Regions from separate parts of the Homo sapiens genome. Here all the other regions are linked to region 1. Evidence: fine-mapped expression QTL. A gene starts in region 1. Each other region holds a variant in brackets. All regions are shown on one strand. Distances are from middle to middle.

Region 1 (2,769 bases):
GTGTGGCTGGAAGCCCTGGGCCTGGCCTGAATGTAGCTCCACCGTCCCCAGCCACTGTCTACAGATTGTCAGGTCTGCACTGGCATTTTCTTTCAATACACTTAGAGGAAAGTGAAATATTTTTCTTACACATGTTCCCATGAACTGGGGCAAAATTAAGAAAACTCCACATATTCCAGGAGAAATAAGAGAGTATGTTTCTTGGTGCAGGTAGAAACTGATCTTAATTTCATCAAATGAATAAAGTGTGGACAGATGGAACTTGAAGGCACCCAGATGAAGCCAATTGCTTCTCTCATGACCAGCCTTCTCCTCTCATGTCCATTATTTATGTGAAACTCAGAAGGAGCCACAGCAGCCATGCAGAAGAACCCAGGGGGCATCTGTGGCACCAGGGCAATCGGACTGCCTCTGGCTGGACCTTGGCAGGGGATGGTACCTGTACACAGAGGGCACATGCAGCCTGAGGGGCATAGGCTGCCAGCCAAAGGCCTGGGTTTCGAGTCCAGCTCTCACATTTACTGCTGCGTGGACTTGGACAGGTTGCATGCTAAGATGGCATTGGGCTCAGTAGCAAGTGCTCACGGTGTTGGCTGCTACCGTTAGGGATTTGACTGAGGGAGCCCAAGAATGAAAAGAGCTCGATTTCTGCCAGCTCAGTTGGGTGGGGGACTCAAGACTTGTCATTAAGTTGATTTATATTTTAAAAAGTGACATTTCCTGCACATTTGGGTTTTTGGCTGAACATCTAAGCATTGTGACAACGTGCAGGTATAAAGGAGTACAGGAGCATAAGGCCTTCAGCCTGCTGGCTGAGCCTGTGTGACTACCAAAGTTCCTCCAGGCTAAGGACCTGGACATGGGGCCTGTAAACTTGGATGGGAAAAAAATTACATCTCTGTTCTCTAACCTCTAAGGAACACTTAGCATCTTCTTCTAATAGTAGTGTGGCAAACGAACCACAGAAACATTACCACCCAGTAACTTTATTTCTGGTAGGAATCACAGGTCTTTCCATCCACATTCCAGCTGTTACAGGTATCTCTCAATATCGATTCCATTTATCACCATGTCGAGATGGTGGTAGCTGTTTCATCTGCTGCCAGATCTTGCTATTTACTGTGTGGATAAATAAGCATGTATATTTCTACTTCACAAGTTTAACAAAATATTTTGATAACTGTGTGTTAATACTACTGATTTCTACTATGATCCTTATCTATTTTAGTTTGGGGATTTAAAAATCTTATTCTGAGAAGAGAGTGATAGGCATTCCTAGACTCAGAGGCTCCCATGGCACAAAAACAGTGACCGAGCTGGACTATTGGCTGGAGGGGCATTTCCTATTTCTGCTCCAAGGCAGAGGCTACTGCAAGGGCTGGACTGCAGGGCAGACCGGCTTTGCCCACATTCCTCTCTGAGACTTACTAGCATGGGTCATTAGGCAAGAAACCGCACCTTACCGAGCTTTGTTCCCACACTCTGTGGGGAAGATTATAGGAGAGAACACTGGGTATAATACCCCAGCATGTACAATGGGTCTAATCACAGCCAGCTTCTGGTGGAGTCCAGAATGACAGGGGCTTCCTTCAGCCCTGTCTTCAGAGAGGCTGAGAGGAACTGAACAGCCTCCTGGCTGTGACAGTGGTTTCCTTCCCCATCAGTCACGTGGGTCTTGTCCTGTCCCCAGAGCCTTGGGTCACATGGCTCATTGTGCCTGCGCTGCCAGCAGCCAGGAGCCAGGAGCCAAGAGCAGAGCGCCAGCATGAACTTGGGGGTCAGCATGCTGAGGATCCTCTTCCTCCTGGGTAAGTGGGGACTGCGGGGGTCTCTGGCCCGGGGGAGCCTCAGTGGGCAGGAAACTGGGGGAGCCTTAGCCCACTGGGGCTTGATCCCTAAAACATAACTCTGTCCCTTTACACAGATGATGTTTCTCACTTTGATCTGGTAGTGAGCAATGATCTTGTTTGTCTCATTCCAGCTGCAACTTACAAATGCTTCTGGGCTAAAGGAGAATAGGAAGGGTCATGGCAGAAGGAGCTTCGGGCTTGGGATCTAGAAACATCTGGGTGTAAACTGTGGCTCCATTGCTGATAAACTAGAATAAGCTTCTGAAACTCCCTAACTTTCTGAACCAATGAGATGGGAGATAATCATGTTTACTTTTTGGGATTTCAAGAGAGTTAAGTTAAATTTAATTAAGTCAAATCAAAATACTGACATAGAATGAGAACATGTAGGCATGTAGATACTGGTATACATTTAATGTTGAATCAGAATTCTCATGCAGTGAAGCAGACTCTTTGCTACTCAGAGGTATCTTTGTTTTTAAAAATTATCTTTAATGCATTCCTTGAAAGAAGGAAGAAAGGAGAGAGGCAAAGACTAAAACAAAGTAGGGCCAAATGGAGGAGAGAAATATAAAGTCAGAGAAGTAGACAGAGAGGAAGAAACTCAAAGAGAGAGAGAGAGAGACAGACAGAGACATAGAGAGATGGTTAGAAATATGCATAGATGGAGACAGAGATGGAGAGAGACACATGCCTTTACGAAGTCCCCTCTGATATCAACTGTTGTTTCCTAAAAAGGCAGCATACGTCCCTCATATATACAAAGACGTTCCTTCCCAGAACTTGCACTGGGCCGAGACTCAATGGGAAGCAGTCTGTCTCCAGATTAAATCTTGTGTCTCCAGACCAATAGGTTGTATCCTGAATGCGGGCAAAGTTAGTGCTGTGGGCAGGTTTCCATCTAAAGTCTGCACTAAGC
Region 2 (2,769 bases), 62 kb after region 1:
AGAATACTACAAACACCTCTACTCAAATAAACTAGAAAATCTAGAAGAAATGGATAAATTCCTCGACAAATACACCCTCCCAAGACTAAACCAGGAAGAAGTTGAATCTCTGAATAGACCAATAACAGGCTCTGAAATTGTGGCAATAATCAATAGCTTACCAACCAAAAAGAGTCCAGGACCAGATGGATTCACAGCCGAATTCTACCAGAGGTACAAGGAGGAACTGGTACCATTCCTTCTGAAACTATTCCAATCAATAGAAAAAGAGGGAATCCTCCCTAACTCATTTTATGAGGCCAGCATCATCCTGATACCAAAGCCGGGCAGAGACACAACCAAAAAAGAGAATTTTAGACCAATATCCTTGATGAACATTGATGCAAAAATCCTCAATAAAATACTGGCAAACCGAATCCAGCAGCACATCAAAAAGCTTATCCACCATGATCAAGTGGGCTTCATCCCTGGGATGCTAGGCTGGTTCAATATACGCAAATCAATAAATGTAATCAAGCATATAAACAGAACCAAAGACAAAAACCACGTGATTATCTCAATAGATGCAGAAAAGGCCTTTGACAAAATTCAACAACTCTTCATGCTAAAAACTCTAAATAAATTAGGTATTGATGGGACATATCTCAAAATAATAAGAGCTATCTATGACAAACCCACAGCCAATATCATACTGAATGGGCAAAAACTGGAAGCATTCCCATTGAAAACTGGCACAAGACAGGGATGCCTTCTCTCACCATGCCTATTCAACATAGTGTTGGAAGTTCTGGCCAGGGCAATTAGGCAGGAGAAGGAAATAAAGGGTATTCAATTAGGAAGAGAGGGAGTCAAATTGTCTTTGTTTGCAGATGACATGATTGTATATCTAGAAAACCCCATCGTCTCAGCCCAAAATCTCCTTAAGCTGATAAGCAACTTCAGCAAAGTCTCAGGATACAAAATCAATGTACAAAAATCACAAGCATTCTTATACACCAATAACAGACAAACAGAGAGCCAAATCATGAGTGAACTCCCATTCACAATTGCTTCAAAGAGAATAAAATACCTAGGAATCCAACTTACAAGGGACATGAAGGACCTCTTCAAGGAGAACTACAAACCACTGCTCAAGGAAATAAAAGAGGATACAAACAAATGGAAGAACATTCCATGCTCATGGGTAGGAAGAATCAATATTGTGAAAATGGCCATACTGCCCAAG[G/T]TAATTTATAGATTCAATGCCATCCCCATCAAGCTACCAATAACTTTCTTCACAGAATTGGAAAAAACTACTTTAAAGTTCATATGGAACCAAAAAAGAGCCTGCATTGCCAAGTCAATCCTAAGCCAAAAGAACAAAGCTGGAGGCATCACACTACCTGACTTCAAACTATACTACAAGGCTACAGTAACCAAAACAGCATGGTACTGGTACCAAAACAGAGATATAGATCAATGGAACAGAACAGAGCCCTCAGAAATAACGCCACATATCTACAACTATCTGATCTTTGACAAACCTGAGAAAGACAAGCAGTGGGGAAAGGATTCCCTATTTAATAAATGGTGCTGGGAAAACTGGCTAGCCATATGTAGAAAGCTGAAACTGGATCCCTTCCTTACACCTTATGCAAAAATTAATTCAAGATGGATTAAAGACTTACGTGTTAGACCTAAAACCATACAAACCCTAGAAGAAAACCTAGGCATTACCATTCAGGACATAGGCATGGGCAAGGACTTCATGTCTAAAACACCAAAGCAATGGCAACAAAAGCCAAAATTGACAAATGGGATCTAATTAAACTAAAGAGCTTCTGCACAGCAAAAGCAACTACCATCAGAATGAACAGGCAACCTACAAAATGGGAGAAAATTTTCACAACCTACTCATGTGACAAAGGGCTAATATCCAGAATCTACAATGAACTCAAACAAATTTACAAGAAAAAAACAAACAACCCCATCAAAAAGTGGGTGAAGGACATGAACAGACACTTCTCAAAAGAAGACATTTATGCAGCCAAAAAACACATGAAAAAATGCTCACCATCACGGGCTATCAGAGAAATGCAAATCAAAACCACAATGAGTTACCATTTCACACCAGTTAGAATGGCAATCATTAAAAAATCAGGAAACAACAGGTGCTGGAGAGGATGTGGAGAAATTGGAACGCTTTTACACTGTTGGTGGGACTGTAAACTAGTTGAACCATTGTGGAAGTCAGTGTGGCGATTCCTCAGGGATCTAGAACTAGAAATACCATTTGACCCAGCCATCCCATTACTGGGTATATACCCAAAGGACTATAAATCATGCTGCTATAAAGACACATGCACACGTATGTTTATTGCGGCACTATTCACAATAGCAAAGACTTGGAACCAACCCAAATGTCCAACAATGACAGACTGGATTAAGAAAATGTGGCACATATACACCATGGAATACTATGCAGCCATAAAAAATGATGAGTTCATGTCCTTTGTGGGGACATGGATGAAATTGGAAATCATCATTCTCAGTAAACTATCGCAAGAACAAAAAACCAAACACCGTATATTCTCACTCATAGGTGGGAATTGAACAATGAGAACACACGGACACAGAAAGTTTTATTTTTAAAAAATCAGTATGGGAGAGAATTGAAATGAGGCATAATATCTAAGCTCTGAAATTTCAGCCTGTAAGAGACAAGTGTTTTTAAGTGCTAAATTCTGTATTCTAAGGGCAAAGCATCATTTTAAACACTTTGTGAATAGT
Region 3 (2,769 bases), 36 kb before region 1:
GGAGCTGTAGGCTTCTAGTTCAAGCCCCACCAACTTTCTTTTGCAGCTTGCAGGGGGAAGGCAGAAAACCAGCCGGGGGCAATGGCCAGCACTGAAAAGGAGAAAAAGGGAGGCCTTGTTAGTTTAAGTAATGTGTCCAGAAGATAAATCTTGTGAGAAGGTCTGTGTATGGTTATGCATGTTTGGAAATGTTTTGGGTGTCATGTTGGCTTGGTAGGAATAGAATGTCATGATACAGCAGAAACCGGTGGATTTCCACAAACACATCACAATCAGCAGGAAGAGAGTGTCTTGGTCAGCAGGACAGCAGGAGATGCAGGGCTGATAAAGAGGAAGAGCTCCCAGGCTTTCCCCACTTCAGAGAGGGAGGCCTGGGTGGAGCTGGGAGCAGTGGTGCTGGAGACAGAGTGGGCTCTCTTGGGGAGGGCTCGGGCATGGACTGAAGTGACACTGAGCCTGTCAGCTAAAGATGGCCCTGAGCTGTCCCTTGGCCACTGTCTGTGAGTCATTGAGTAACGTGAGTACATGTGGCCCGGCCCGCAGTCTCGTCTGCATGGAAGGAGACCTGGTTGGAAGCTGCGGTGCTCATTTCCTGGAGGCTCCTCTGAGCTAACTCCTGCTGGCTCCAGGGCAGCCTGTGTCCGACCACCCCTTGCCCACCCTCTTAGCACCGAGCTCCTAGGTCCAGCACATTTTGCTTGTTACCCTTCGATTTACATATCTGACAGTCACAACATCTACTTGAGAACTATTTTAGGAGCCCTCTGGTGTTATCAGGAAGCAGCAGTAACATAGCGGAGCTGCCGGGAATTTTTCCCTGGTGTTTGTATAGGAGCCCACCTAGGGAGCATTTCAACAATCAGTGGGGCTCTCTTCTTGCTGATGATATCATGGTCCCATGAGACCATAACCCCCAGAATGGGAAGCTGCCAAATCAGTAGGCCACCACTTTTCGATTTGGTGCTCAAAGATTTTTGGCCAGAGGAACCTTATCAAGTAGAGATGGTCCCTAATTTAAGATGATTTGATGTAAGATTTTTTGACTTTATGATGGTGCAAAAGCCATATGTATTCAGTAGAAACAGTACCTTGAATTTTGAGTTTTGATCTTTTCCTAGGCTAGTGATATGCAGTATGATACTTTTACATGAGATATTCAACACTTTATCGTAAAATAGGTTTTTTGTGTTAGATGATTTTGCCCAACCATGGGCTAATGTAAGTGTTCTGAGCACGTTCAACTAGGCTAGGCTGGACTGTGATGTACAGTAGGTTAGGTGAATTAAATACATTTTTTTTGAGACAGAGTCTCACTGTGTTGCCAAGCCTGGAGTGCAGTGGTGTGATCATGGCCCACTGCAGCCTTGTCCTCCCAGGTTCAAGAGATTCTTGTGCCTCACCCTCCAAAGTAGCTGGGATTACAGGCATGTGCCACCATTCTC[G/C]GCTTATTTTTGTAATTTTTAGTAGAGATGAAGTTTCGTCAAGTTGGCCAGGCTGGTCGTGAACTCCTGGCCTCAAGTGATCCATCTGCCTTGGCCTCCCAAAGTGCTGGGATTACAGATATGCACTACCACACCCAGCCTAAAGGCATTTTTGACTTACAATATTTTTTAACTTAGATGGTTTTATTGAGATGCAACTCCATCATAAATTGAGGAACATCTGTATCACATTGTTAGAGTAATATTTTCTTGGCCACAGATGCCAGCACCATGCTTCCTGTACAACCTATAGAACTGTGAGCCAACTAAATTTCTTTTCTTTATAAATTACCCAGCCTCAGATATTTCTTTTGAGCAATGTAAGAATGCAAGAATGAACTAACACAGAAAACTGGTACCAAGGAGTGGGGCATTGCTATAATGATACCTGAGAAAGTGGAAGTGGCTTTGGAACTGGTTAATGAGCAGAGATTGGAAGAGTTTGGAAGGCCCAGAATAAGTCAGGAAGATGAGGGAAAGTTTGGGATTTCTTAGAAACTGGCTACATGGTTGTGACCAAAATGCTGATAATGATATGGGGAGTGAAGTTCAGGCTGAGGAGGTCTTAGATGAAAATGAGAAAGTTATTGGGAACTGGAGTAAAAGTCATCCCTGTAATGCCTTAGCAAAGAGCTTGGCTGCATTGTGTTCATGTCTAGGGATCTGTGGAAGTTGGAACTTAAGAGTGATGACTTAGGGTATCTGGTGGAAGAAATCTCTAAGCCCCAAAACATTCAAGATGTGGCCTGGCTACTTCTAATAGCATATGATCAGATATAGGAGCAAAGGAATGGCTTACAGTTGTAACTTGTATTTGAAAGGGAAGCAGAGTATAAAAGTTTGGAAAATTTGCAGCCTGGCCCTGTGGTAGAGAAGGAATCCAAGCAGCCTTTGGAGTAACCACTTGCTAGAGAGATGTGTACAACTAAGAGGGAGCCAAGTGCTAACATCCAAGACAATGGGAAAAAGGCCTCAAAGGCATTTCAGAGATCTTAGAGACAGCCTCCAATCCCAGGCCCTGAGGCCTAGGAGGAAAGAATGGTTTCAAGGGCCAGGCCCAGGCCCCCATTGCCATGAGCAGTCTTGGGACACTGCTCCCCACATCCCAGCCACCCTGTCTCCAGCCTCAGTTCAAAGGGGTCCAGGTACAGCTCAGACTGCTGCTCCAGAGGGCACAAACCACAAACTTTGGCAGCTTTCATGTGGTGTTAAGCCTGCAGGTGTGCAGAAAGCAAGAATGAAGGAGGCTTGGCAGCTTCCCCCTAGATTTCAGAGTACTTATGGGAAA

The links. PIP is the estimated chance that this variant, and not a neighbour inherited with it, causes the effect. A credible set is the group of variants that fine-mapping cannot tell apart.
Region 2: its variant is the best candidate, but not a certain one, in a credible set for the expression of TMEM273 in whole blood (INTERVAL, PIP 0.86).
Region 3: its variant is the best candidate, but not a certain one, in a credible set for the expression of TMEM273 in whole blood (TOPMed, PIP 0.89).

Annotation. Positions count from the first base shown.
Region 1 is chr10:49,187,333-49,190,101 of GRCh38, reverse strand. It overlaps TMEM273 (transmembrane protein 273), which reads left to right and starts at 1,711. Exons shown (of 7, transcript NM_001288740.3): 1 at 1,711-1,808. The coding sequence starts at 1,766.
Region 2 is chr10:49,124,901-49,127,669 of GRCh38, reverse strand. All of the region lies in intron 1 of FAM170B-AS1 (FAM170B antisense RNA 1), which reads right to left. Among named protein-coding and RNA genes, the nearest start is that of FAM170B-AS1, 4.4 kb to the right of the region's middle. The variant G/T (reference allele first, on the strand shown) is at 1,226.
Region 3 is chr10:49,223,291-49,226,059 of GRCh38, reverse strand. No RefSeq gene overlaps it. Among named protein-coding and RNA genes, the nearest start is that of TMEM273, 36 kb to the right of the region's middle. The variant G/C (reference allele first, on the strand shown) is at 1,443.